Homo sapiens: one gene and its partners. The protein of the gene in region 3 interacts with the protein of the main gene of each other region in a pairwise test. Each region holds a gene or a part of one and is shown on either strand. Other genes may lie near its edges. The genes, in order: TRIM9, PTCHD1, GFM2 and FAM107A.

Region 1 (8,252 bases), on a different chromosome or scaffold from region 3:
CCATTAACTAAAACATAAACTATATGAGAAAACTGGCTGCTAACACATTAACTTCCTTATTAAGTAAATAAGGTGGGGGAGTAATGTTTGTTGTTCATCTAACAGATGACAAGTGAATGTTAAAATCTGTCATCCTTCTGTCTTATTTTTTTTCTTGGCAGTTTAGTAATCCTCATATTGACTGAACAAAAATTATGTGTCCTTACTGTTTTGGAAAAAATGTGCAAAAGATCAGAGAATAAATGGTCTTCTAGCCTACTTATGTCATGTTTCAAGGGTTTTAACATTCTTTTGTGGCAGGTAGATATCTAAATCTCAACCCAGGCAGCACCAGTGTCTGTCTACTCATAATTTCTATTGCCAATAAAACAAATGATTTAACATTTCAAATTGACATGGGGCTTGACAGAGATTTAAAGGTTTCTTTTGGTCTTAATAGATCAAGGATAGGCTTGTCATAAAAAAAATAATAATGTTGTGGTTTACCCATCCTAATTACCTTGTGGCTCTAAATTCTTTTTCCTGACAGAGTGATTAATTTTTTAGTTCCAAGGATACTTTGTAGGGCAATTCAACATGGACTATAATTAGCAGTTTAAAAGTGAAATCAAAATATGAATAAAAAACTAGCTGTGAACTCAAGTTTTGAAAACTTTCAAAATTAAATGTCATTTTCAAAAATTTAAATTCGACTGTTCTGAAAACAGTGGTGTGTGCCCAGTTAGGCTTCAATTTGTGCTAAATGAAATCCCCATCAGTACTAATATGATTTAATAGGTTATATGTGAGAATAGAATGACTGTAAACATGGATCACATTCAACCGGGTTAAGGAGTTGAGAAAACTTTCACTGATTGCTGAAAATTAATGACATTTTTTTCTTGCTGTAAACAAAATATCAATGTTCCAGCCTTAACTCCACAGTTGGCCACTTGCAAAAGCTACCCTTTCTAGTCTCCAAGGAATTCTGGGAGACTCTGAGCAAGGCCACAGCTGAGGCCTGGACACTATCTTCACTGCTCCATCTCATCCTTGGGTATGCAACTCAGTGATGTAAAGAAAAGCTCCTTCCAACCATCCTGAATCCCTGCCCTGCACTCCACAGCCCCAACTAAATGGATCATTTAAAAAATGAAAAGCAAATTCATGCACATCTCCTCAAGAGTTGCTCCCTTCCTTCTAAGCAGTGTGGGCATATTATAAGGATCTTCTTCCTCATGAGGCTTATTTCGTTTATGTCTGTGTGTGTACAGGGAGCAATAGATAAATACAAAAAATAACATAATTAAAATATATAGCATGCCACACAGGGATAAATACTACTGAGGAAAATAAAGCTGAGAGGGAACTAGCGGGTGTCTGGGTGGGTGGCGCTGCAAAGATGATACCTGAGCAAAGAGCTGAAGGATGCAGGTAAGTGACCCATTCGGATCTCAGGTAACTGGGGAAGAGAGCTTCAGGCTGAATGAACACCAAATGCAAAGGCCCTGGAGTAGGGAGGTGCCTGGCGTCGTTTGAGGAACAGTAAGAAGCAGTGTGGCTGGAGCAGAGGGAGTAAGTGGGAGGCAATGAGGTCGAAGGGGCCAAAATGGAAGAGGTCATGTAGGACAGGCTGAGAAGCGTGGGAAAAATTGGAGGGTTTTGAGCAGAGGAGTGGCACGACAGAATATGTTGCTAAAGCCTCTTCGTGTCTAGCCATGGTGGAAATATCATCAAAAGAGACTGGAAAGATAAATCTGGTAACAGGTGTCCCAAAGTTTGCACATATAACTACTGAAAGAGGAAAGGGCTTGAATTCCGGAGAAGTGGGTGTGTGTATAGTTGGGAGGAGAAGGTTTCCCTAGGAGATGCACCTGTCTGGCTTCCAGGCCGCGACTGCGCAAACTCCGGTCCTGACACTCTAGTCTCAGGTCCCAACTCCGGAAGGGTTCAGGCCCAAGCCTGCACGTCGCGTTGCCATGGCGACCGCTGGCTGCCCTCTCCGCTCTGTCTTTTGAGCACGTGGCACCAGGACCCCGCGTTCTCTCCAGCTCGAGAGCCAGGTCTGGCCCAGAGCCGGGCTCATCAGTATTCCGCCTGCGGCGTCTCCCCGACCCTCCGCCGTGCCTCACCAGGTCCGCCTATCCAGCAGCGACAGACTCCCGCCGTCCGCGCGACCCCACCGCCCCCATCCCAGTCCCTCCCCGAGGGTTCGCAGCCCGCCCTGCCCTCGAGCGTGCCTAGCGGCCCTGGGCACTGGCGCGGCTCTACCCAGCTATGCAGTGCTTTCCCACACACTGGCCGCGGCCACTGGCTGCAGACCCGCCGCGGAAAGGGGGCGCCCTGAGTCCCGCTCGCAGGCAGCGCGCCCCGAGAGACCCGCTCTAAGGCATCCCCGCAACAACTCTGTGGGGGCATTCAACTCCCCCGTGCGCCGGTTAAGATTCCCCCATGCCTCCTGCAATGCACCAGACCAGGGAGGTAAACATCGAAGGCACCTGCATTGCGCCCCCACTGGGATGCGCTGTGCGCAAGAGACGGGGACCGTCTGCTGCAAAACCGGATGATCGGAGACGCAGGGAGTTAGGAGTGGGTTTTCTTAGGACTCACCTTATGTAGTTTCCACATGGCCCCCAGAGCCTTGACTTCGTGGCTGGAGTGTTTGCCCTCCTCCAAGCACTGGTAGCACACGGGCATCTTGCATTGCACGCAGTACATGCTGTGGTTCTCCAGCTCGTGGTCTGTGCAGGTGGAGACCTTGCGTGGGCTCAGCCTCCGGCTCACACGACCCTGGGCCGGGGGCACCAGGCGGTGCTTGGCTAGGGGCCCCCGGGGCGGGTGGCAGCGCAGGCGGCACGGATCGCAGTAGAAGACATCGCACTGTTCGCACATGACGGTGGCTTCCTTGGGCGCCTTCTCGCAGAGCTGGCACTTGAGGGCCGCGGCTTTGCTCTGCTGGTAGCGGTCAATTACCCCTTCCAGTACGCGATTCTTGGGGAAGCCGCGGAGCCCCCGGTCATCCAGGATGAGGCTGCGGTGACACTGGGGGCAGGTGATACAGGAGTTGCGGGGCACCGGGGCCAGGGCCGGTGACAAGTGGGTGGCCGGTGGCGGCATAGCCGGGGGAAACACGCGGACGCCGTTGGGGGACTTCTGGCACGGGGTAGTGGGGGCGCTGGCGAACCCCCCGTAGGAGCCATAGCCGCTGTCCGCCTCGCTGTATAGGCTCATCTTGTCCAGGTCCAGATAGTCATAGTCGGAGACCCCGGAGCCCGCGGCCCGATGGCTCTGGGGGGATTCAGACTCTGGGGTCTGCACCAGGATGTTGCGGGCGCACGCCTGACACAAATTGTGAGAGCAGGGCAGGATGATGGGCTCCCGATAGAAGGAGCCGCACACGGGGCATTTCAACTCCTCTTCCATCTCCTCCATGGGGACCGGTCTGGGAGGAGACAGCGACGGCTGCAGCGGGTGCCTGAGCTGGCGAGGTGGCCGACGGGCCCGTCTTGTCCAGCACCCTGGCCAGCGGCGGCGGCTGTGGTGGTGGTGCCTTCCCGCGCAGCACTGGCACGGACACCCAGAGAGGCGCTAGCTCTGTGAGCCGCAGCCGCGTAGCCGCCGCGCCGCGCGCCAGCCCGGACCGCCCCTACCTGCCCTCCTAGTCCCGCCCCGGCCCATGAGCAGCGGCCCATTGGGCGGGGGGCAAGAGATCGAAGCTCTCATTGGCCACCAGACCCGTCCGTCTCCTCGTCTCCGCAGGCCACAGGGGGTTCGGTAGAGTCTGAGGATAGGGCAGTCTTCGCTCGCGGCTGCAAGATCTCTGAAGGGGGCCGGCGTGCGGAGGCTAGGGGACCGGGAAGGAGGAGTTAGGCGGGATGATTCATCCTCGCCCGGCTTACTTCCGACCTCCGGTGCAGTCTCCCAGGAGCTGGGGGCGTGAGAAACCCCTCCCCGCAGCGAGTGGGCTGCCGGAGGGGGCTGGGGCTTCTCGCCAGCGTTTGCGTTTGGCTCCCAGCTCTGAGCTCCGCGCCCACCTACCGCGGGCGAGTGCTGCGCAGCACGGAGGACGCCCCTTCTCTTCCGCTGCTGGCAGCCTTCGCAGGCGTCTCACCCGGGCCTAGGCTTCTGCACGGCAGTGGGGCTTTTCTCCTTCTCCGTGAATCCGCTGACGCCGTGCCCTGGAGCTCCCCCATCCCGGGAGTCTGACGGCGCTGGCGCAAGCCCTGGCGACACTCTTGGCTTCTTTCATCCTGCGTCCCTCGTTTCCTAAAGAGCATGTATAAAGTCGATTTCCTAGTGTCGACATGAGATTCAACTGGGTAACCGATGGAAATGGTCAGCATTAGTCAGAATCTATGACCCCTTCGTTTCATGCTTTAAATTATAGCTCGGCCCAGAGGCCTCAGTGCCGTGGTGTGAACGTGCTTCCTTCCACGGATCCTTCTTCCTCCTCGCGGCCTCCCAAAGCACCTGGCTGAGCTTTTTCGAGGCCCGCTGGGCCTTTGGTTCGGTTGAGGCAAGAACAGTTTGTCTATTTCTGAGTGCCCGTAGTTTAGTAAAGCTCTGTAAATGAATCACTGTGTGACTGCGGAGTCTCAGTGTTTCACTCCAAACAGCATTATTCAACCCCACGTGCCCTGGGCATCTGCCATAGCTTACAGCATCGTGTGCCTTTCTGTTTCTTCCAACGAGGGGCATGGTGAGGCGGTGATTCTAGTGTTAGTCCCTGTACAAGGAGGGAGGGAGGGAGGGAAGAAGGGAAAGAGGGAGAGAGGGAGGAAGGAAGGGGGGGGGAAAGGAAAGGCGGAAGGAAGGGAAGAAAGGGAGGGAGGAAGAAGAAAAGGAAAGGAAAATCTTTGAGTCAAGTGACATTCTGAGGTAGTAACATTTGAAATAGTACATAGCCGGCTTTTGCTGAATGATTCATGAAGTAAAGGACAAAAACTCTTTGCAAGTTCTAGAAATATTCCAATTTTCCACCTTCCAGACAGGAGATAACTTGATTATATGCAGCTATGTTGATAATTTAAAAGTACTTTATTGTCCAGAAAAAAAATGGACATTTTATTACACTGCCCTTGTAGAAATTGTCCAATAAACTAGGTTATCTTTTCAACATCTTTAGTTGCAGTGAGAACAGTAGTTGATCATTGTGTGGGGGAATAAAGTCCCCATTGTTATTTAAAGCCATGTTAATCATAAATGTGACGTGATTTATTTTTAAGCTGGCTTTCAACTAGTTGAGACCAGAGCATCCAAAGGTATATGCACTCTGTTTACAGACATAGATAAAATTTCTTCAGGTATGGTTGGGACATTAGCTGCACTTGCAGGATACACTTAATTTATAGGTCCCAAGAGAAATTACTAATAATTATATTCAATATAGTATTAATTGAATTGTAATGAAAGTTAATTATTGAGAAAATATTAGAAAGGAGTGTCCTTTTATGGCTTTTGTATGCATTTGACCACAAGTCACAATATCTTGGACCAGCAAGGTGAGCAGCTGTTACACTTTGTATGAGTTTGAACTCTGCTTATAATAGTATATCATCTAAGAGATCTTATTAGCAGAAAGTTTATGCTTAGTTCAAAGTAAAGAAGAATTTTAGAGGATGTCTCATGGTGTAATGCAGTGTTGGGTTCGCAAAAAGAACAACACAGGTTTATAATATAGTCAATATAGAAAGATTTGGTCTATTATGAAGTCGCTTGAGATGATTTCATTGTTAGATCTGTTTGTTTAGGAATTAGCTAAATCAGTCAATCCTAGGAGAGCTCTTAAAATGACTCATTTGTTGAGAGTTCACCCTGTTCCAAACAGGGGATTTATTTATTTGTATACATTACTTGGTTAAATCCCTGTAATTACAAGAAGAGGTAGGCACAATTATTCCCATTTTACAGATAAATAAACTGAAGATAAGCAAAGACACTTAAGTACTCAAGGTCAAATATGGTGAGGCTGGGATTGGAACCCGGACACATATAAGTTTGTTCCTTTGTTCATTCATTCATTCATTCATTCATTCAACAAGTGCTGAGTTCTACTCTCTTCAAGCTCTGAATGTGATAAGTACCCAAAATGTTCTTTGTTAACTTCTATGATATTCTGCTCACCTTCTCTGAAAGTTTACTTTTTTTTTCCTTTTTTTTTTTTGAGACTGGAGTCTTGCTGTGTTCCCCAGGCTGGAGTGCAGTGGCACAATCTTGGCCCACTGCAACCTCCACCTCCCAGGTTTAAGTGTTTCTCGTGCCTCAGCCTCCTGAGTAGTTGGGACTACAGGTGTGCACCACCATGCCTGGCTAATTTTTACATTTTTTTTTTTTAGTAGAGACAGGGTTTCACTATGTTGGCCAGACTGGTCTCAAACTCCTGACCTCAAGTGATCCACCTGCCTCAGCCTCCCGAAGTGCTGGGATTACACGCATGAGCCAGCGCTCCCAGCCAAAAGTTTACTATTTTTCTTTGAATCCATTTCTTTAAAATATTCTTGAAGGCCTTTGAAGATTTTCCCCTCATGTTGCACTGTTTGGCCATAATGTGCTTTATAGCCCCCCAATGACTTATGTTTAAAAGGGAATAAAAATTGAAATGTAATTGGTAATATTATAGAAATATTATACTATTGAGGGGATATCTTCTGTCTTCCAGCTGGTGATCAGTCCATGCCCTGAAGCACAAGGATTGATAGCCCTGTAATTTCATCATTCCTGGGATGATTGCAGATGTTCTCTTTTGTGTAAAGTGCCTAATTATCCTTTGAAACTTACTATTCACCCAAATTATGTTCTTTAGCAATGAGAGCAATTACATTTAAAGTGCAACAACAGCTTTTGCATTTTTAAAAAAAGATAAATGTTTTTCTTTTTTTGATAAATGTTTTTCAATGAAAAATTGAGTTGCTTTCCTATTTGCTTTTGACTACAATGCTTGATTATTAACAAAACAGTCTCTGTGAGTCTAAAGAATGAACACAGAGAAGAAAGGTTTTTCTTTCCACATTCTCTCCTAGAGTAGTCTATCCTTAGTTGTGGGAGGGGGGTGGAAATCAGTGAAAGGAGCTGATCTTAGGCTCTAACATTTTAAGATTATCTGACATGTATATAAAAATATTTTATTAAGGTATTTGAATAAGGGTCTTGCTGCATGTGGTTTGTAAAAGTACATCACTTGAAAAGTGATAAATGTGATGTTTCTATTCTCAATAGAAATTCTGAAGAAACTTCTTTTATGGAATAATTTACCCCATTTAGTCTACTAATATTCAATTTTATACTTATAATTTTGTACTATTCTTTAATAACATTTATTGTTGATATCCTTTGGTAATTTAAATTATTTGATTATTATAGTGAATTATGAGCTTTTTCCCATTTAGTACTACTGGAAGATGGCCATATTCAAATTCTGTAGTATTTCTTATTGTAAGTAATATATTACTGATGCTTTGGGAAGGGTAGACTGGAGAATCGGAGAAAATGAAGATTTAATGAATCCTATATGGAGGTAAGAGAGCTAGAGGATAAATCCAGAAGACCTAACTTGTGAATAATAGGAATCTCAGAATGAGGAAATAACACAGGTGGAGGGAAAACCATAGTTGGAAAACATTTCTCTGAACCAAAAAAATATATAAAATTACAGATTGAAAGGATTTTAGAATTATAGATGACATTAATGAAAAAAGACCCAGTTATATACAGACACAATTCTTAACTCAGAAGAAAAAAAAAAGATCATTTTACAAGCTCCCAGAAAGAAAGAACAACTTAATTGTAAAGAAAAAAGAATCAGATTGGCATTGGACTGCTTTCTACAACCTTGCAGGTGAAAATAATGTGAAACAAATTCTACAGCCTACTAAAACTGAAAGAAGTCACCCTGTCATAGTCCGTTTTTGCTGCTATAACAGAATACCACAGACTGGATAATTTATAAGAAACAGAAATATATTGGCTCATGGTTCTGGAGGCTGGGAAGGCCCAAATCAAGACACTGGCATCTGGTGAGGGCCTTCTTGTTGCATCATCCCATGGTGGAAGGGCAGAGAGAGGGCAAGATAGAGGGCAAGAGGGAGCTGAACTTCTCCTTTTATAAGAAACCCACTCCCGCGATAAGAAACCTATTCCCATGGTAATGGCATTAATCCATCCATGAAGGTGGTGCCCCTGTGACCTAAACACTTCTTAAAGGTCCCAACTCCTGACACCTTCTCACTGGGGATCAAGTTTCTAACACATGAACTTTCGGGGACGCAGTCAAACCA
Region 2 (8,290 bases), on a different chromosome or scaffold from region 3:
TGTGTGTGTGTGTGTGTGTGTGTGTGTGTCTATGTGTGTGTGAATTCTCATAACAACTCCTTTGTTTTAAAGACTGAAAATATGCCAGGCCCATTTCTCCCCACTGTCCTTTCCTTTTTTTTTTTTTTTTTTTTTTGGCAATGCCTGTTTCCTATCTTTAAAAAAGGGAAGAACTTTGAATTTAATTGTTTCATTAACATAATCTCTTTGGTCTTGATAAGACCTAAGGTGAAAATATGCCAAGCAGACATTATCACACTGTTGTAATTTGGTCAACCACACGGGTACTATCGATATCTACCATTTCTACACACTCAATTTCCTCCCGGTTCTCAGGATTTTTCTTCTCTTTCCTTTTTTTCTTAGAGGGTGGCAGGAAAGTCAGTATCACAGGTAAAATGGCAAAGCAGTGAAAGAAGGTGACAAATGCTATTAAAAACAAGCACCTGAACAGTGTACAGGTCAGATTTGAAGGCACAGCTGCAAGAGGAATCAGACCAACAATATAGCAGAGGTAACTCTGTAAAATAGCTACCCCATGCACTTCCAGGGCATTTTTTACCCATTTAGTTCTTGTGAAATCCTTGCCCAGAACAAATGTGGATAACATTGGAGCACAATTGTCAATTGTGTAATTAATTCCATAAATTAAGCATAGCACAGAAATGCAGTCCAGTTCTACTTTCCATAATGTCATGAAACCTATCACTCCAAACTCCACGGACACAACTGTGAGAGTGATCCAGACGTTAATCAGTGAATCTGCCACCAGGAATGCCGAGAAGAAGAGCAGGAACAAAGCACTGATGCAGGAGTTGTGCAGGGGGGCTCCCAGAGAGGAGGCATATCGATCCATGTATACAAAGGACGGATTGAAGACGATGAACTTCACCTTGGAGGTGACAGAAAGTCTCCTCAGGGTTTCCAAGAGATCATAGAGTTCTTCTCTGTTTGTTTCCATGGTCTTGGCCACCAAAAACATTCTGGAGGCCACTACATCGACCTCATCATTGTATTTTTTAGAGAAGATGATGTCCTCTTGAAAATGTGAAAATTGAGGGGCTTTCAGAAAGGAATTCCTCAACATGTCTGTGAAATTTTTCTTAGGCAAGCCAGTGGATACATTGAGTTTCCGAAGGTAATTTAAATAGCTCTCAAACCAGGATATCCGCACAAACCCCTTGGTGTATTCTAGAACATCTTCTTGGACACTAGTGTTCCAGTATTCTATAGACTCATATATGTAAAACCCAATCACAGGACTGTAGTTGCTGAAGTACTTTTGCTGGGCAGTAGTGTACTCAATGGTTTGTGTCGCGGTTGCTACAATGTTACTAAGGTCTGACCCTTCACTGACCTGCAGATAGCCCATTAAGGCAAAGGAAATATAAATAAGGTAAAAGAGAACTACAAAAGGCTTGACATAGGTGTTGGTTATCCAGTCACAGTAATAGCGTTTGAGGAAACATACCAATAGGTGACTCTCGTAAGTGTTCGCTTCCTCGCCTTCAGCTGTGTCCTCACTGAATCTGGCCGTCAGGAGAAACCTGTACCATGCCGGCTTCTCCTGCAATGCCTCAGGCTTTGGGACTTTTCTACAGAAGATACTATGCTGGTAATTGTTTTCTATGTAGCCAGTGAACACTAGGCTGGAACCATAAAACGAGAGTACATAGAGGTAGTTGAAGAAGATTGCAATACAGGAATTGCAGCAGAAAATCCTGGCTGCCTCAATGTTCGTGAAAGGGCTGGCCCCTATGCCAAAGGTGACCAGGTACATGGCAGTGGTGAGAGAAAAGGAGAGCATGGAGTCTGCATAGACTGCTGCAGTTCTCTCTTTAACATGTTGGTCTTCTCTAGTTTTCCTCCAGGAGGATAACATTTCAAAAGTCCCATATAATCCATGACCTAAGAGGGCAGAAAAAGACCAGAGCAGAAGTTTAAAGAACTAATCTCTTAAGAGGGAAATCAACTTGATTATGAGGGACTACTGGGTCAAAGGAAACGTAATCAACCCTAGTGGTGACGGGTATGTAAATGCCAATGATTTCTCCTATGCGGAGATAGACCCATGTTTTTATGAATCGTAAATGTTAATGGATAACGAAAGGGCAGCTAGAGAAGCAAAGATCTTCATATTCCCTCTGGCTTAAGAAAGTTCTCTTCTTTGGAGTGTTCCACCAAACAAACAGCACTTAGATGAACTTTTGCCTATAGAAAGCTGAGTAGAGCCAGTCATGGTGGCTCATGCCTGTAATCCTAGCAACTTGGGAGACTGAGGAAGGAAGATGACTTAAGACCAGGAGTTTGATACCAGCCTGGGCAATGTAGCGAGACCTCATCTCTCAAAAAAAAAAAAAAAAAGAAAGAAAGAAAGAAAAAAGAAAGAAAAAAAAAGAAAGAAAATGAAACAACTTAGCCAGGAATAGTGGCTCATATCTGTAGTCCCAGCTACTTGGGAGGCTAAGGCAGGTGGATCTCTTGAGCCTCGGAGTTGGAGGCTGCAGTGAGCCATGATTGTGCCACTGCACTCCAGCCTGGGCAACAGGGCAAGACCCTGACTCTAAAAAGAATAAAAGCTGATTAGACTTGTGCATATGTCTCTTGGGGATTTTTCCCATTAATAGCTTAGAGTTATTGGTGCAGTTTGGTTGGTGGAACGCTCCAGAGAAGAGAAGATGTCTGGACACTCATCATTTTGCTTTCCGTCCCCACAAGTCTGGCTAGGGGTCAGTGCAGAGGAAGATAGTGGGCAGAGGGTTCTGAGTTAATGTCCTGTCACCTCATTTAAAATTTGCCAACTAGAGGGTTTTAGTGATAAAGAGGCAGTGTATTTCATTTGAGTCTTGACAGGAAACTAAATCACAGCCCCCTCTGTTTTCCCTCCCCAAATATCAGGGCAGGAAGCAATAAATCTTAGAAAGAGGGAAGCAAAATAAGTAGGAGTGAAGAAGTTTCAGTGAAGAAAATACAGAAAAAATAAGATAAATATGAACTCTCCTGGTTATTGATAAAAATTAGGATTCAGGTTGAAGGTTTATGACTTGCAATTTGTCTTCAGGGATCTGTTTGACCAATTTGGTTATTCATACATGACTTATCAAGCAGTGATATAATACGTCAGCAGCGACTCTGCTAGCTTCTCCGCGCTATTTGATAGTGGCATCTGTGGGAAAGAGCCAGATCAGTAACCCCGCTGCGTAACTGCTTAGTGCCTTCGCCTCCTGGTTTAGTATTTCAGCAATACTGAAATAGCAGAGGTACAGTAAATGCTCATGTTCTAAACTCCATTCTGCTGCCTGGAACCTGATCTAGCATGACTTCTACCACCTCTCGTAGTTGGAGCCAGACATTTCCCTACTTCGAGTCCCTGTGTTTCCAGGCCACTGCAACATTGGAAGGCTCACCAAAGTGACCCGTTGTGGATTTCGATAACTCCTGTCTTGGCAATGGGGATCAGCAGATCTAATTTCCTGCTTCCATCGCCTTGGCATATTCAATCCCATTATTGAGGATAATAAAATCTTTACCCTGTGGTACAATAGTCTTGTATTTAAAAAGGAATTTAAAATCTCCAGCCAAGCATAATGCTGAATAAAGTGAGTCACTGTTATCTTGTGTGTACAATAGCTAGGTGTACATCTTCCCTCATGCCCAAGCTAGTATTTATATCCTTATTGTGAAGTCCTGGCCTCATACCTGAAATGCCCATTTCAAAGTAATGATTTAGGCCTGTTTCCTCAGAGGAATTTGGCATTTATCTTAATTGACTAGGCATCGTTTTACAGCCACTTTTAGAAGTCAGGTCAAGACTGTCAATTTGTTAACTAGCACCGAGGCCCCTATTAAATTGAAGGCACCTAAACTCCCCAGATATGAAGTAAAAAGTACACTCATTGACTGGCATCCTGTTGTTAATTATGCTTAGGTATTAACATCTAGTCTGGAGAGGGAACATGATTAAATCTGTTTCTAGTATATTTTCAAGATGGACCCACTGACCTTTAATTAAGTAACCATTCTCTTGACAATGAGGGTAAAAAGAGAATACTTCTGAGGCACTGTCCCTGAAGAAATAATATTGTTTTTTTTGTTTTTTTTTTTTTTTTCCTGGGGCCATGTAGAGCAAGTAAGCTTTGGTGGGCAAAGCACACTTCAGGGGATCACTATAAATGGCAAATAATTTTTTAATGATATTTACTTGCCAGAAACAAAAAATTTAAACAGGGTTTTAGTACTGAGTTATTAAATATGGCAAGAAAATAAAGCATATAGCGGAATTAGAATTAGTCATATAATAGAACTTAAATCTGTTTTGCAGTTCTTTTAAAAATCAGTGTGATGTTTTATAATGACATTATCTGACCCTGATTTTTGGAAAATACAATAAGAATCAATTTCATACCTTGCTGTTGAATAATCTTAGAAGCTAATTGAGAAAAGGAATTTGAATTAACAGAGATATTAGGTGACAAGACTGAGGCTCCAGGGTCAAGAATGAAAGTAATCAAAATCAAGGAAAGGTGGAAGTAGGCTGTTAGCTTCTCTCTTGAGTTCTGTTGCTGCATTTTAAATGCCTTGTCCTTCTATAGTTTGATCTTTTATTTTGAGTCCTGGCTCTTTTTGCATATGTTCTTGGTTTGGGGGCAGCTCCAAAGAGAATTCTAATTTTCTTCTGAGGGGCTTTTGGAAACGATGCCTTTCCTTAGTTCTTCCTTCTTGCTACAGGTGTGTACATGCAGCCACTCACAGAAATCAGAAGAGGCCCTGAGAAAGAATTTGTTCTAACCGATCACTCAGCATTTGTTGCTAGTTGTGCCTGACTTTGCCTCCAAAGGCCCCGACCACCATTCCTGATAGGTCAGATTCCTTTCTCAAGCCACACCTCTCGAGCAGATTGCTACACCCGAATCCCCAAACTGGAGTTCTACAGCATCTTACAAGAGCCCTTTGGATTTCTGGGACAATTGCTGATACCATAACTGGGCCTCCTTCCTGAAGGTTTGTCAGTCAAGGGAGGGACAAGTGCTAACATAGCTGTGGTCACCTCTTAAGGATTAACAGCCTGGAGTGCCTGGCTGGCAGCTGTCCTGGCTCATAGCTGGGTATTTTTGCTGAAGAGGTCGGCCTGTTATCCTATAGGAAAGGCCATCGGTGAGGACTCTTGTGTTCTGGCCTGGATTCAAGGGGAGACACATTCCAAAAGCCCTAGGACACGAGGACCATCCTGCCCTCCAGAATGCCGGAATTATATCCGAGTTCCCCTTGGAACTTTCAAGGGTATCCTTTTAAATGTAAACTCCTCTGGGACAGTGGTCTACTGAAGCAGCTTCCCTTAGGTCTGGGGAATGGGACAGAGAATGGACATGGGAATGGAATAAAGAGGAAATGGCAGGTAGGAGAATTTCACAGAGACGAATTTCTTCAGTTTTTCCTTCAGTCAGGTCTGACCTTATCTTTTACTAGCACTCCAGAAACTGGGCCACCTGGAGTCAAGGAGAGGCAGAGAAGATAGATTTTGGTAGGTTCTGTTCCTCTCCACTTTCCTCTTTCAGTGGATGGCTACCTCCTTTAGCATCATCATCATTCATTGCTTTTTTTTTTTTTCGAGACGGAGTCTCACTCTGTCTCCCAGGCTGGAGTGCAGTGGCACAATCTCTGCTCGCTGCAGCCTCGGCCTCCCGGGTTCCAGCGATTCCCCTGCCTCAGCCTCCTGGGTAGCTGGGATTACAGGCACATGCCACCACGCCCAGGTAATTTTTGTAGTTTTAGTAGAGATGGGGTTTCACCGTATTGGCCAGGCTGGTCTTGAACTCTTGACCTCAGGTGATCTGCCTGCCTCGGCCTCCCAAAGTGCTGGGATTCTATACAGGCATGAGCCACCACGCACAACCCACTCTCCTAATTTTGGGGCTGTAGTTCAGCAAGCGGAACTCTGACGCCAAATCTTACAGACGTAGGCAAACAGATATTGCATGTGGACTGAAGATACTTTTCAGAGGTCTGACTGTTGTTTCCTACTTTTTAAAAAGGTGTTTTAAAAGCAAAAGTACTGCTGTTTGCTTTGCACTCTAGTTTTAAAAACTTCTCTACAAAGTAGGAGTTCTATAAGCTTCTCTGTTAAATCTGACCAGTGGGCCTATGTCATTGGCACAAAGCATGACTTTGGCAAATAACAATTTCCCATCTCCAAAGTCCCAAGTCTGTTCACAAGGACTCCCTGGTGACAGAACTCATGGGGTGGGGCCAGGGCAGAGCTACCTAAATACAGATTTTGATTTTGGTCAGTAGGGACCCTGTGGTGTTATTGGGAGTCATGACTCATCATTTGAGGGCCAGGTCGCAGCCTGAGACCTTGGGGTAAAAAGACTATATATCACAGTGAGGATATCAGGAACCTCCACATCCTGACATCCTCACATTCCAAGGATTACCCTGGATGATACAACATCCCAGGGGATTCCTTCTTTTACAGTCACAGTGCAGGACTGAGGAGTTGCCAACGGGAACTGTTAAACACATACTGATTCTATCAGATTTTGAAGATAAAAATGCTTCTAAAGCATTCTCTTGTCCTTTAAAAGCATATTCAAGATGTTTGTTTCTATTTTTGTTACCCTGCATGTCTGTATTGTTACATGCATAAGAACAAATGCATATCAGTATGTAAAAACACATACACACACACATAAAGAGAAAGAGAGAGAGAGAGATTGAAGGGAGCGCCAAGTTCTAATTATTCGTGAGTGAATACTCTGAGGCAGCTCGAGGTTTTTGTCAGGCCAGCAGGGCTCTTCACTAATGTTGAGGCAAAATTTGGGCCGGGAGTGTGATTTTAAAAAGAAAACTGCTTTTATTAATTTTATTTGCAGTACACTTTGGGGTTGTCATCTAATAAAATAAAATACTAAAGAATTTAGGCTAATAATTTTTCTTATTCTCAAAAGAATTTTTATATCTGAATGTGTTGTTAACTCTCAGACTTTGGAGCAAATGAAGGGAAAAAGAAGCACACATGATAAATAACACTAATGGCGGAAAAAAAAATTCAACTGGCTAATCCTCCCATCACTGAGGGTGACTATCAAGCACCCTCAGAGATTAATTCTGTCACCCAGAACTTTCTGGGGCCTGACCAAAGCCTTCAGGGTTGTTTATAATCCGGTAAGACAGAATCTACTAACAAATAGTTGAGAGTTAACCTTTCTTTACCCAGTAGATATACTTCTGGAAAGTTGCTCATAAAGTGAATAATATTTTAAATGTATTTAGTGGTTTTGCTATTGGAGACAGTCTGGGTGATTTTTTTGTTGTTGTTTGGTTTTCAATGAATAATCGTAGGCAAATTGATCTACTTTGTATAATACTTCTGGATTTTGTAAGTCAGATTTTTCTTCAGTCCCAGATTTTCGCGCCTGTCCCAGTATACATAGCCACAACACAGCAGCTGAGAGATGCCGCTGGGTGCTACTCACATTTTAAACCTCTCCACACTAGCAGGATTTCCTCATCCTGAGTTCCTCAAAGTAAGGAATGGCTAAGAAGGAGGAAATGGGATGGCTTGCTGATTGATGGATGATCTTTCAGTTTCAGTGTGAAAACATTTAATATCATGAGTCAATGAAGCTGTTTATAGCATGCCTGGGCAGTGCCAAATTTCATATATGGAAATAAAATTACTACATTCGTCTCAAAAATTCAGAGACTATAATCCATAAGCAAAATCTGCTTAAAGCCTATTTTATTCTTAGAAAAGCTTCACTAAGTAGCTCATGTTTATAAGATGCCTGTTTTTCAATGTCATCCACATAAATTCATGATTTTTGTGTTTTTGAGAAGAAATTTAAAGTGTATATATGTCTGGGTTGAGTAACATCTATTTTCAGGGAGAAGTTTATTAATTGGGTTACATTTACACTTTGCCAGTTATAAACATTTACTTTACAAGCTGAATTGTTTGGTTTATTGCAGCCTGTTTTGTCTCAGAGTTAAGAGTAAGAATAAAGGTGTACTCTGTTTAAGTAAAGACAGATGCTCACATCAGGGGGAACACACACATCTTATTCTTTGTACTAGAGACTTGTCACATTTTGAAAATTCTAACCAGAGCATTGGGTTTTAGTCTTAGGAATGATTTTTCTTCACTAGATAGCTGTAAAAGAGAGCCCTAGAAATGAATTTGCTTATAGCTCTTCCTTGTTTAAAGTATTTAGATATTGTGTGTATGTACATTATATAAGACCAGTGTGTATAAGTATAAATGTGGCCCATAATATATGCTATGGTCATT
Region 3 (8,290 bases):
AAGCATATAACAGTACAAGGGAGCAAAACGTTCAAACTTGGTAAAAAAAAAAAAAACCACACTGTTAACAGGATTAAGTATAGCAGAAATGTACCTAACCATCCTTCTGGAAAGCATTATATGTGATGGTTAAGCTCAGCTTCTGGAATCAGACTACCTAGAAATGGTTCCACCACTTACCCACTTGTTCAAATTTTGGTCAAGTTATTTCACCTCTCTGCCTTAGTAACTCACAAAGATGATAGTAGTATCTACTTCTTGAGGCTGTTATAAAGATTAAATAATTCAAATTATGCTTTAAGAATATATACTAGTGTATAATAAGTATTAGCTATTATTACTGTGCACCTTCAATATTGGAAGTTGATTCTATTCCACACTAATCTTATCCACTAATTTAAAGGAAAATTTTAAATTATCGCAAAATATACACAACATAAAGTTTACCATTGTACTCTTTTTTTTTTTTGATACGGAGTCTGGCTCTGTCACCTAGGCTGGAGTGCAATGGTGCGATCTCAGCTCACTGCAACCTCTGCTTCCTGGGTTCAAGCGATTCTCCTGCTTCAGCCTCCTGAGTAGCTAGGATTACAGGCGCGTGCCACCACGCCCAGCTAATTTTTTTGTATTTTTAGTAGAGACAGGGTTTCACCATGTTGGTCACGCTGGTCTCAAACTCCTGACCTCGTGATCTGCCCACCTCAGCCTCCCAAAGTGCTGGGATTACAGGCATGAGCCACCACACCCAGCCCACTGTACTCTTGCACAGTTCAGTAGTGTTAAGTACTTTCACATTATTGCACAATAAATCTCCAGAACTCTTTTCAACTTGCAAAACAAACTCCATATACATTAATTAAACAACACTCTATTCTCTCTGCCCTTCCCCAGCCCATGGCAACTGCCATTCTACTTTCTGTCTCTGAATCTGATTACTCTGGATCCATGGATTTGGGTTGCTTCTACCTTTTGGCTATTGTGAAGAATGCTGCTAAGAACATGTGTGTGCAAATATCTCTTTGAGACTCTTTTCAATTCTTTTGAGTATATACCCAAAAAGTGGAACTGTTGGGTAATATAGTAACTCCATATTTAATTTTTTGAGGAATCGCCATATTGTTTTCCATAGTGGCCGCAACATTTACATTCCTACCAACAGTGCGCAAAGTTATAATTCTCCACACCTTTGCCAACACCTATTTTCTGTATTTGACAGTAGGCACCCTAATGGGTGTGAAGTAGTCTTATTCTGTAAATTTTATACATACTTATGTATTTCTTATAATTAGCATATTATTAGCTACTGACAGTCTCAGATTCTTTCTGAGATTTCTGTCACATACTATCACATCCTAGAAGACCATGAGACATGGGCAAGTGTGTGTTGGCTCCTCAACTAGATTACAAGATCCTTCTTAAGTTTATTCTTATAGCTCTTCTGTATTAAAACAACACAAACAAACTCAAAGAGGAATGAATTATTAATAAACGTCAATTCCACTTTTATATCTTCTATGCTCCCCAAATTAAAAAAGCAGTATAACAAAGCGGGTAAGAGCTTTAGCTCTAAACAGATTAACCTGGGTTCAGATTCTAGCTCAGCCACTTTATTAGCTGTGTGACAACTTATTTAAGCATTTGAGCTGCTGTTTCCCCATCTGTAAAATAGGGACAATATAAGGTTCTTGTGAGGGTTTAATTAAAAAGTATATGTAAAGCACTTAACCTAGCACACAGTAGGCCCTCATTAACTCAATAACAAAAATAACAATTATTATGTTAATGATAAAGTTGCAATGATTACTACATACAGTCAGGAATCAGTTAGTGACAGGGATAAGTTCTGAGAAATGTGGTGTTAGGTGATTTCGTCATTCTACCAACATCATAGAGTGTACTTACATAAACCTAGACGGCATAGCCTGCTTTTACACCAAGGCTATGGCCTATTACTCCTAGGCTACAAATCCATACAGCATGTTACTGTACTGAATACTGTAGGCAACTGTAACACAATGGTAAGTATTTGTGTATCTCAACATAGAAAAGGTACAGGAAAAATATAGTATTATAATCTTATGGCACTGTCAACATTCATGTGGTCTGTTGTTGACTAAAATGTCATCATGAAGTACATGACTATACTTAAAAAAAAAAACTATGTACAAAAGATAAGTGAAAAAAAAATGAATGCTGAATAAATTTATTTGGACCAATTCAATTTAGAAGTGAAAAATCAAGGGCTCTGATTCAAACGTTTTTCTCTACCATAATATTCAAGAAATTAAGGTATGTTTTATTTATTGCCATATATACTAACAATATAATATAAAATTACAAATATTAACAATCTTGCTATTTTGAAGATTATAATTTTGAAGGTGGATGAGGCCCAGAGCTATATACCAACTATAAAATTGATGGTTTTAAAATTTTCTAAATAATTTGACATCTGGTGAAAAGTAAAGTAAAAGACATGCATATCCTTTGACCTAACAATGCTACTCCTTAGTTTAATCCTAAAGAAACTATTGCCCATGTGCACAAGTAGATACAAAAATGTTCATAGCCACATTGTTTGTAACAGCAAAAAAGAGAAACAACCTCAAAGCCCATCCACAGGAGAATACCCAATAAAGTGTGGTAAAATCATATATTATAACAATATACAAGATTGAAATGAATAGATTATAACTACACATATTTGCAACATGGATAAAGTTCCAACAATGTTGAGCAATGTCATAAAATACAAACAGTAACATTTCATTTATGTAAAGTTCAAAACATGTAAACCTAAGTTCTTTAAGGATTTATGGTAAACTAAAGAAAAGCAAATGAGGCCCGGCGCAGTGGCTCACGCTGGTAATCCTAGCACTTTGGGACGCTGAGGTGGGCGATCACCTGAGGTCAGGGGTTCGAGACCAGCCTGGCCAACATGATGAAACCCCATCTCTACCAAAAAATAAAAATAAAAAAATTAGCTTGGAGTGGTGGTGCGTGCCTGTAATCCCAGCTACCCAGGAGGCTGAGGCAGGAGAATCACTGGAACCTGGGAGGTAGAGGCTGCAGTGAGCTGAGATTGTGCCACTGCACTCCAGCCTAGGCCGCAGAGCAAGACTCCATCTCAACGAAAAGCAAATGAAAGAGAAATATTGAAATAATAATTTGGGGGACAGGTAGATGATTAGTGGGAGAGAGAGATGAACAAAAAATGGCACATAGCATTTACATTGTATTAGGTATTATAAGTAATTTAGAAATGATTTAAAGTATAGAGGAAGACATCAATAGGTTATATGCAAATACTACATCATTTTATATCAGGGACTTGAGCATCTGCAGATTTTGGTATCCACAGGAGGTCCTGCAACCAATCCCCGAGAGATGCTAAAGTATGACTATATTTTAAGATAAGTGGTGCACACATTGGTGTTCATTTTATCATTCATTATACTTTACTTGTTCAATTAAGGCATTCCTTGCTTCAGTTGTTTCCTTCAGCAATTCAGGATCATTCATTTCCAAGAGGGGCTTTCTCTCAAAGTCTTTTCCATCATTTGAATTGCAATTCCAAAGAAGTTTTTCTTTCATTACTACATCCACCACTCCTTTGAAAGTTTTGGCTTCACCAATTGGTAACTGTAAGTCAGAGTGAGATTAACATTATTACATGATCACTCACTGAAAACTACAATGATGACAAGTCTTTTCTAATTGTACCATTTTCCCCAAAATGTCTATTATCACCATTACTATAATCTGTGGCTATTTCTATTTATACCCCAACTTCTTCAAAAATGATGAGATAGCTTTGGAAATGTATATATTGTCACAAAATAAATTAATGAGGAAACTGAGAAGAAGCTGATGCTATTAACCAATTTACCTGTAAAAGCAAAGGCTTTGCCTTTAACTTCTCTCTGATGCTTTCAACTGCATACTTAAAGCTGTAGAAAGCAAAATAATTATAGTTAAAAACATGGTTAAAAATTCTTTACCAAAGGTATCAAGAGAGGAAAAAAAACTCTTTCAGGTTTTAAGAATGTTTTCTAAAATTTTAACTCACTTTATTCTCCTTAACGCTCACTATTTAACAGTTTTCCATAGGAAAATGTCTGGAATAAACTTTTATGTCAATTTCAGATATCAGTAATTACCCTAATCCAGCCACAGAGCTGTTTAGGGTATTATTATTGTGAGCTTCGCATAACTATACTTTGCAATTAACATTAAATGAATTGATCAAGGTAACAAGGATAATAAAGTGCAGTTGGGATTCCAATGCAAGATTTGTGATAAGCCAAGGATTCTTTCTTCTACAACTAGGTTTACTACCATACAAGGCAACTAGCTTTCTTCCAAGAGCCTGCCTAGTCTTTGGCATTCTTCACATCGTATGCTACGCTATTCATTTCTATGCTAACACTGCAGCTGGCTACCTATAGAACACATGCCATCTTTGGCACACAAGCTGATTTACATGCAGGTCATTCCGGTCCCATTGTTTTTCAGAACCAGCCTATTTTCCAGTCATATCCCTCCCCATTGCCAATGGCACTGCCTGACAATAAATAAGTACTTCCATCTACCACAGGAACTCCAAGCAGAAAAGGGTCAGAACTTGAGGCTAGTACATTTTAAAGGTTGCTGGGCTATTAATAATCAAGACAAGGTTCTTTAAACAAACAGCCTCAGAATTACTATAGAGAGGGAGATAAACACAAAGCATATTAATTACTGTGTAGTTTTAGGGGAGGTATAGTTTATGTTTCATTTTTGCCATTCTCCCATCACAGGCCACAATCTCTCCCTATCACATTTGTTCTAGAATTTTTAATATTCTTGATTCTCTCCCTTTCACATTTTCTCCAAATCTTTCAAATATTCTTGATTATCTGAATTATATTCCCAGGACAATGCATCCACCACTCTGTAAGTCTCTGACCATGACCAATACATCTCAGCATTAACTCTCTTCTGCCCCTACATGCAGGTCTTACAGCATCTACATTCTCTTCTTCCAGTTCTTTATTGACAGTATCTTACCCAGTAGCTAAGAAAATCAGAGAATATGGAAGAACACCTTCAAATGCAGGAAACAGTTCTCTATTCTCTATCTTTAGCGATGATGGGAAGCGCCATACCTTCAGCAATATAGGGACTATACCTGTGTTCTAAAGAGAATCAATGGAATCATCAAGAAGCCACTTTGATCTCAGAAATATGATTCAGTCTCTCTATACTAGAAACAGGATGATTCACCATCTATCAGCTATTACTCCCAAATTGTTATATAACCTATGGATTAGCTGCTTTGAATTTTTTTATGGGAATAAACTGGGATTCCATGGAATATTTATACCCTATAATACAATAGGAAAAAAAATAGCTATTCCTAAATTTAAGTTATAGTTCATTAAAAGCTCAAATTGTAGTTTCACCCTGATAAGCCAATGAAACACATTTCAAATACCTTGCTCCAGTTTTGTCCATCTTGTTTAAAAAACAGATTCGAGGTATATTGTGTTTATCAGCTTGCCTCCATACTGTGAGAGTCTGGGCCTAAAGCAAAGATGAGGAAAAAAATACATACTGAACAAAAGTAACTATGTTACTAGACCTGGAATGAAGAGATCCAAAAATCTACTGTCAGATAAATTGGGCCCTATTCTAGCAGAGAATTAGTGCAACTGCACTTATATTTTTAGGGTCACTCTTTAGCTATCAAGTTAACACAGCCGGGAACGTGATGAAGTGTGAAGGGGAGTGTGCTTCAAACCACTTGAGAATACTCTGGGTGAACTAGGTGGCCACACAAAGAGAATTAACACCTCAGGAGGTACTGAGAATCATGGAAAGTGAACTTAACTGAGAATCAGGAGACCTACTTCTTGTTTGGCTTCACTTTTCCTAGTAAATGTCATATGACACTGAACTCATTTAATGTCAGGTTTCTGATCTATGAAATAGGAATTTTGCCTTAATTATTTCAGACACTTATTTTGAGGTAAAAGAAATATAGGAGTGTACTATAAAGCAGCCAGTTTATTTTTTAGGTAAAATTTATATACAATAAAGTACAGATATTAAGTGTATAGCTCAATGCGTTTTGATAAAAGTACGTTTGTGTAACTACTACCCCACTTAGAACATAGAACATTCTGTTACTCCTGAAATTTTTCTCATCCCTGTCTCCTATAAGCAACCTGTCTTGATTTCTGTCACCATAGCTTCAGTGTCTTATTCTTGAACCTCATACAAAATAGCATGGCTTCTTTGGCTCAACATGTTTTTAACATTCATCCACATTGTTAGGTATTTCCGTTCTTTTTAATTATACATACGTACCAGTTGGCTTTCCTATCCACCAGTGCGGTGGCTCACGCCTGTAATCCCAGCACTGTGGGAGGCTGAGGCAGGTGGATCACTTGAGGTCAGAAGTTCAAGACCAGCCTGGCCAACATGGTGAAACTCTGTCTCTACTAAAAATACAAAAATTAGCCAGGCGTGGTGGTGCACGCCTGTAGTCCCAGATACTCGGGAAGCTGAGGCACAAGGATCGCTTGAACCCGGGAGACAGAGGTTACAGTGAGCCAAGATTGCACCACTGCATTCCAGCCTGGGCGACAGAGTGAGACTCCTGTCTCAAAATAAAATAAAATAAAATAAAATAAATAAAATAAAATAAAATAAAAAAATAAAAAAAAATAAAAAAAATAAAAAATAAAATAAAATAAAATAAAATAAAGAAACTTCCAAATAGTCTTCCAAAGTAGTTGCATTATTTTGCAGTCTTTTTAATTTTTTTTGAGACAGGGTCTCACTCTGTTGCCCAGGCTGGAATGCAGTGGTGCAATCAAGGCTCACTGCAGCCCCAACCTCCCTGCTGGGCTCAAGCAATTCTCCCATCTCAGCCTCTGGAGTAGCTGGGATGACAAGTGCACGCCACCACACCCAGCTAATTTTTTTTGTATTTTATAAAGATGGGGTTTCGCCATGTTGCTCAGGCTGGTCTCTAATTCCTGGGCTCAAGCGAACCCACCTGCCTCAGCCTCCCAAAGTGCTGGGATTACAGGTGTGAGCCACCATGCCTGGCCTCTATTTTGCAGTCTTATCAACAATGTGTAAGATTTCTAGTTGCTCCACATCCTCACCAACATTTGCTATCACTCTTTTTAATTATAAGCATTCTTTTGGGTGTGAAATTGAATCTGTGATTTTAATTTGCATTTTCCTGAGGACTAATGAGATTATACATCTTTTCATGTGCTTACTATTCATTCACATGTGTTCTTTTGTGAAGTGTCCATTCAAGTTTTTTGTCCATTTTCTTCTGGGTTATTATTGATTTATGGTTCTTCATATAGTCTGGATACAAATCCATGGTTATAGATACGTACTATAAATACTTCAGTATTTATTTCCCAAGAACAATCATATTCTCTTATATAACCAATACTATTATTGCATTCAGGAAATTTAATATTTGTATAATATGTTTATCTAACATTACAAGTATCTTCTCATAGTCTATTCCTTGTGTTTTTAATTTTTTTGTTTTAATGAACAGCTGTAGTTTTGATAAAGTTCCAGGAATCAACTTTTGTTATTTATGTTTCATGCTTCTTATGTCCTCTAAGAAATTTTTACCTACCCCAAGGCTGTAAAGATATTTTTCTTCTAGAAGCTATGTATACATAACTTAACACTGTGATCCACTCCAAATTAATTTTTGTGTATGATGAGGTATGTGTGTGAGGCGTGGAGGGTGAATATCATAAATTTTCAAAGAACAAAAACATATTGCAAATCAAAACAAAAAACTCCCACCATTCCACCTGCCAGCTAAAAGCTCATTCATTGTTTAAAACAAGTGCCTTCTCCTTCATGAATTCAGCAACTTCCTATTCAAGCACATTTCAATCTTGTAAGTAATGCAATCTGTTTGAATGATTAAACGTCAAATTTATCTAAAGTTACAACAACAGAAAAATGGAACTATTAGGAAATAAAGTGACCCAGAAAGAAACAGAAATAACAGTGTATAATCAATCTCACACCACAGTGTCTTCTGCCAGAATCCATTAAACTATGGCAGGCTAACTTGTTAGCTCAAAAGTAAGGTAGAATCTCTGATCTCTCAAAGTTCTTGACACCAGCTTTCCTATTTCTCCTTTTACTATGAAATATCTGAGATTACATGTAGATTACATCTCAATATAAATTCTGATTTCCTTTTACCATTATTTGATTTATGTGAACTTACCAAATAGATGGTTACAGTTAA
Region 4 (5,065 bases), on a different chromosome or scaffold from region 3:
TGATGGTCTCCTGACAGCTCCCCACTTCCCACCCCAGGGGCCTTGGTGTGGACAGCAAGCCAGAGCTGCAGCGTGTCCTAGAGCACCGCCGGCGGAACCAGCTCATCAAGAAGAAGAAGGAGGAGCTGGAAGCCAAGCGGCTGCAGTGCCCCTTTGAGCAGGAGCTGCTGAGACGGCAGCAGAGGCTGAACCAGGTGGGTGATGGGCACCCAGCAGGGACCACGCATCCTCCAGGGCTGTCCTCCAGGGAGGAGCTCTGCTGTGGCCACAGCTAGTAAGAGGGAAGAGGATCAGCAGACAGAGCACTGGACTAAGAGTCCACTCCTGGCCTGAGTCCTCCCTCTGCCATTCACTTTGCTAGGTCCTTAGGGCGAGTGGCTTCCCTGAACCTCAGCTTCCTCACTGGCCCAGTGTACTGCATGCTGATTCTGATTTCATTCTTATAACTGTCTTGTGAGCCAGGTGGCATTCCCATTTTAGAGATGGGGAAGCTGAGGCCCAGAGGGGGTGAGTGATTTGAACCAGGCTGCACAAGGAGAACTCAGTCTCATGCTCTGTGCCCCAGCTACCAGGCTGATAGCAAAACTCATCCCCAGGTTGGTTCTGTTTCCCCACTGAGTGGGCCCTTGGTCCAAACTCCACAGGTTTTCAGAGTAGGAATCCCCCTAGCTCCACCCACTTCACTCTCTGCTTCTCCCTCCTTCAGCTGGAAAAACCACCAGAGAAGGAAGAGGATCACGCCCCCGAGTTTATTAAAGTCAGGGAAAACCTGCGGAGAATTGCCACACTGACCAGCGAAGAGAGAGAGCTGTAGGGCCAGCTGCCGGGCTCAGGCCACTGCCCACCCTGGCCTGGACAGCCTCCTTCAGCCCTTCTGTACCTGGCAGCCCTGGGCCCCAGGCCCTGGGACGTCTGTGATGTTCCCACCTGCTTCTGTAGAAATGTGTCACCCCAGAGGGCCTGGCTCTCCCTGGGAGGCTGGGGCCCCTAAGCTCCTAGGTTTTCCTTCCAAGCACCCAGCCCTCCTGCTCCAAGAGGGATAACCTGCACCCCTCCCTGCAAGGGGTTCAGAGCCCAGCACAGGAGCTTTCTCTGGCAGAATTGAGGAGGAAGAGGTGGCCCTCTGACTTGACAAGCCTTCTGTTCTGCCCAGGCCTTCCCACCAGGAATCTCCGAGGCTCCCCAGGGCCCCGCTTCTCCGTACACCCCAGCTCCTAGGTCTCAGAGAACTCCCCCACCTGTGGTTTTACCTGCAGCCAGCAGAGCTTAGCTTCAAGGACACCTGCCTTCAAAGCCACTGAGGGGAGGAAGGGCAGGGCAGACTGCAGATGGCCTTGTTGCTGGCATCCCGGCCAGGTGGGCGGGGACTAACAAAGACAGCTGTTTAGGGTCTTCTCCCCTCACCCATGCTTTCATCATCCCCTCCGCACAGCCTCCCCGTCCAGGCCTTCTAACCACACCTACCCAGGGCTGCCGCATTCCTGCACTCAGAAGTCTGCAGCGGTGCCTCACAAACTTGATTGTGCATAAAAATCACTGGGGATCTTGTTAATACAGCTTCTAACTCAATAGATCTGGGAGATCCTGCATTTCTAACAAGCTCCCAGGTAAGGCGGAGGCTGCTGGTGTGAGGACCATGCTGTGAGCAGCAGGGCGAGAGTGCCCAGGGCTGATATATATTGGAAATATCACCCCTGAAGCCATCGCTGGCCCCCACCTCCTGTGGACTGATGCCCCAGGGATTCCCACCCCACTTCTGCAACCCCAGGTATCCTTCATTATCCACCCCATCCCAGACTCCCACCCCAGGGATTGCCCGTGAAGACTTTGGCCTAGCAAATTGTGTTGGTTATGTGAGTGTTGTTTTAATCAGAGATGTACATGATTGCCAATCTGCATTTCTTACCAGTGTGACCACACTGTTACGATGCAATTCTAGCCAAAAAAAAAAAAAAAAAAAAAAAAATTTTTTTTTTTTACTTTTTCCTAGTCTTATGGAAAGCAAATATACAATGATTTTCAGTAGGCTTCTGGAATAGAAACAGTGGTTTGAAGACCCCACTGCCACCTTTATGGACTGGCCCCTTTGAGTCTGAATCCCCGGCCTCTGTCACCTGAGACCCAACCCCTAGCTGGGCCAACTCCAGTGAATTCACCCATTTTTCTTCTTCAGAAGGCCTTTCCTGTGTGAGACCCACATATTTTAACCTTTTGCTCCTATCCCATTTTTAAAGAATTAGAGAATAAACCAGGCCTGTTTCTTTTCCCCTGAAATCCCTGCCTCTGGCTTCCTAAACCCATCATCTAAGGTGACAGAGCAGTGCTGGAATAGCATCTCCTTTCACTTTCCCAAAACTGCCACAGATAGCTGCCACTGGCATGCTCTTTGATTCCTGGAAGCAAACGTGGGACTGTCGGAGGAAAGGGATTGTTCTGGTCTTACTCATAACTGGGTGGTTTGAGGGTGACTGAAGTCGTGCTTTTCCTGTGTGTGCTGCCAGCACAGGGCTGTAAATGCAGATATTGCGCCTGTGTGCGTGTGTATAAGTCAAGCTCCAAGAGGCTCCTGAATGTGACTGGCGTGCTGAGAATGTGTTTACGCTGTTTAATGTCTGCCAGGTGAGGGTTACACTGAAGATGCACAATCCCTAAAATAAAGATCACCACTTCCCCAAAGAAGCAGCCCTCGGGTCCATGTGTTGTTCAGACATGTGAAGAGAAGCAAGACAGAGGGTCTCAGATGGACGAGGGCTCTCCAAGGGAATGCCTGGGGATTCACCCAGTGGTCCCCAGAGGTGCTCCATGGAGGCAACAAGTCATTCCATGAAGCCCCAGAGGTAGAAGGGACCTCAAGCACCACGCCCTCCAGGGCAGCCGTGCAGACGACCTTGGTTCACTTTTCAGGGGTCGTCCCAACTCTGTATCTCCAGCCACTCCAACTGTGGAGGCTGTAAATCCAGATTTTCACTGTTCCAGTCTCCTTTGCAGCTTAGGATGGCTATGTGATCAGGTGTGGCCAATGAAATTGAAGAGGAAGTCTACCTGGGCTTCTGGGAAAGCTTTTCCAATAAAAGACACAGGCATGGCTAACACCTCCCTGGGCCTCTTCTTCCTACCTTGATTGAGGGTGTGATGCCTGGAGCCACAGCAGCCACTTTGCTACCATGACAAAAAGGCCAAGAGAATCACAGAGTCATTGACCCTATCATTATTTCACCAAGCCAATACCAGCCGCCATCCTTCTCCAGAATTCTTGTAAATAAAATAAATCCCTCTTTGTTTAAACCATTGTTGGTCAGTCTCTGTTACTTGCAACCAAAATCATCCCTAACTGACACAGAAGGCCAGTCCCTGCCTGTCCAAAATTACCTGCAGGCTGTGCTAAAAATCCAGATTCAACTTTCCCATCAGAAGCCTATTGGATCAGGATCCCCAGCTGCAATGCCTGGGATCTGTTTTTCTGCACCTTCCCCATATAGCCTACCTAGCATGAGTCTGAAAACTGGTACTTGGACATGACTAAAGCACACATCATTCAACAAATATTTATCGAGTTCCTGCTCCATGCCAGGATGCATGCCATAGGCTGGGACACAGTAGAGAACAAAGGTGCAGTGCCTCCCCCTCATCTGATGACTGCAGTGGTCTCCTCCCAACTGGTCTCCCCTACTGGCCTTGTCCCTACACCCTGTTCTCAACAGAGGAGCCAAAATGATCTTCCTCCAGTCTAAGGCAGAACTTGCGACTCTGCACAGAGCCCTCCCTGGGCTCCCAGTGGAGTCTCTCCTGCATTCCAGGTGGTCCTGCGAGTCCAGCTCCCTCTTAGCCTCCGACCTCCTTCCTGCACTCTCCCACTTGCTCACACAGTCCCAGTTGTGCTGGCCTCCTACCCTCTCCAGGCATGCCCCATCTCCATGCCTTTCCACCTGCTCTTCCCCAGCCAGGAGTATCCTTCCCTCCAAGAGCCTCGCGGCCCACTCCCTTGCTTTCTTCAGGTCTTTTATCACACTTCTTCTAAATGAGGTCCCCTTTAGCCACCCCATCTAAAATCTCAACTTCTGCAGTCTTCCTCTGCCTGCCTTGCCTTCTTTTTCCCCCTTACTGTTTATCACCATTGAACATATTCTATATTTTACTGATTTGTCTCGTGTGTCCCTCCTAATGATAATGTCAGCTCCATGAGGGCAAAGATTCTTGTCTATCTTGTTTACTCTGAATCCCTAGTGCACAAGGCCTAGAGAAGATGCTCAGGAAGTGTTTGTCGAATGAAAGAATGAGAAACCCCTTCTCCCTCTGCAATACACCTAGCCTTCTCCCAGGTCCAGCCCATAGCAACCAGAGAAGGCCCTACCTGCCTCCTTCCTCCACGGTTTCCACCCTGACCCACAGATATCCATTTGCTGGGAAGCCCTCATCTGCCCACTTGGGCATTCATCAATATACCTGGGCCTCACTGGCATCATGCTGGCAGGACCCGCATCAGAGCCGCATGGCTCCTGCACACCACAGGAGTGTCTAGAGAGTCAGATCATCCCTGAAGGCTGATGATGAGGCCATCACTCAAGCCTGGAGACCATGGAGAAGCAAAAGGCTGCTGCAGCAGCTCTGACTTCAGACCTCTCCCTAAACAGGGAGCCAAGACAGCAACCCCCGTTCTTGCGGGGGCCACACTCTCTCGGGTCCTGGTTTGGGTTTGCAGAATGCCCCTGTCAATGGCAAACCAGCACTAAACACAAAACCTGGGAGAGAGGGCTGACCTTAGGATGTGAAGGGACCCTCCAACCCTGGTCCTGCAGCGTGTGTGTCACAAGAGTCCTCACACCACAGGAGATTTGGCAGGGCAGCCTCACCACACTTGAGATTATACTGACTCCAAACCCTGTGAGGGTGGGACCCTGTCTGATTCTGCTCACCTTTATCCAGGGCCCTGAAAATAGTTAGGCACCCCGGAAAGTTGTGAATGGATGTCAGTAATGATCACTTTCACTCATATCTGTGTGAAGAGACCACCAAACAGGCTTTGTGTGAGCAACAAGGCTATTTATGTCACCTGGGTGCAGGCGGG

The links.
Region 1: the proteins of GFM2 (region 3) and TRIM9 interact in binary tests that used the Homo sapiens proteins (3 or more experiments, as listed by UniProt).
Region 2: the proteins of GFM2 (region 3) and PTCHD1 interact in a two-hybrid assay, tested with the Homo sapiens proteins (one study listed by BioGRID and IntAct).
Region 4: the proteins of GFM2 (region 3) and FAM107A interact in a two-hybrid assay, tested with the Homo sapiens proteins (one study listed by BioGRID).

What each region holds. Positions count from the first base shown.
Region 1 is NC_000014.9:51,091,529-51,099,780, forward strand, and holds the start of TRIM9 (E3 ubiquitin-protein ligase TRIM9), read right to left. Parts: upstream 3,578-8,252; 5' UTR 3,412-3,577; coding exon 2,590-3,411; intron 1-2,589. UniProt on the Homo sapiens protein: E3 ubiquitin-protein ligase which ubiquitinates itself in cooperation with an E2 enzyme UBE2D2/UBC4 and serves as a targeting signal for proteasomal degradation.
Region 2 is NC_000023.11:23,386,149-23,394,438, reverse strand, and holds part of PTCHD1 (patched domain-containing protein 1), read right to left. Parts: intron 1,909-8,290; coding exon 254-1,908; 3' UTR 1-253. UniProt on the Homo sapiens protein: Required for the development and function of the thalamic reticular nucleus (TRN), a part of the thalamus that is critical for thalamocortical transmission, generation of sleep rhythms, sensorimotor processing and attention. Can bind cholesterol in vitro.
Region 3 is NC_000005.10:74,742,216-74,750,505, forward strand, and holds part of GFM2 (ribosome-releasing factor 2, mitochondrial), read right to left. Parts: intron 5,566-8,290; coding exon 5,477-5,565; intron 3,951-5,476; coding exon 3,890-3,950; intron 3,643-3,889; coding exon 3,463-3,642; intron 1-3,462.
Region 4 is NC_000003.12:58,562,337-58,567,401, reverse strand, and holds the end of FAM107A (actin-associated protein FAM107A), read left to right. Parts: intron 1-37; coding exon 38-194; intron 195-706; coding exon 707-814; 3' UTR 815-3,285; downstream 3,286-5,065. UniProt on the Homo sapiens protein: Stress-inducible actin-binding protein that plays a role in synaptic and cognitive functions by modulating actin filamentous (F-actin) dynamics. Mediates polymerization of globular actin to F-actin. Also binds to, stabilizes and bundles F-actin.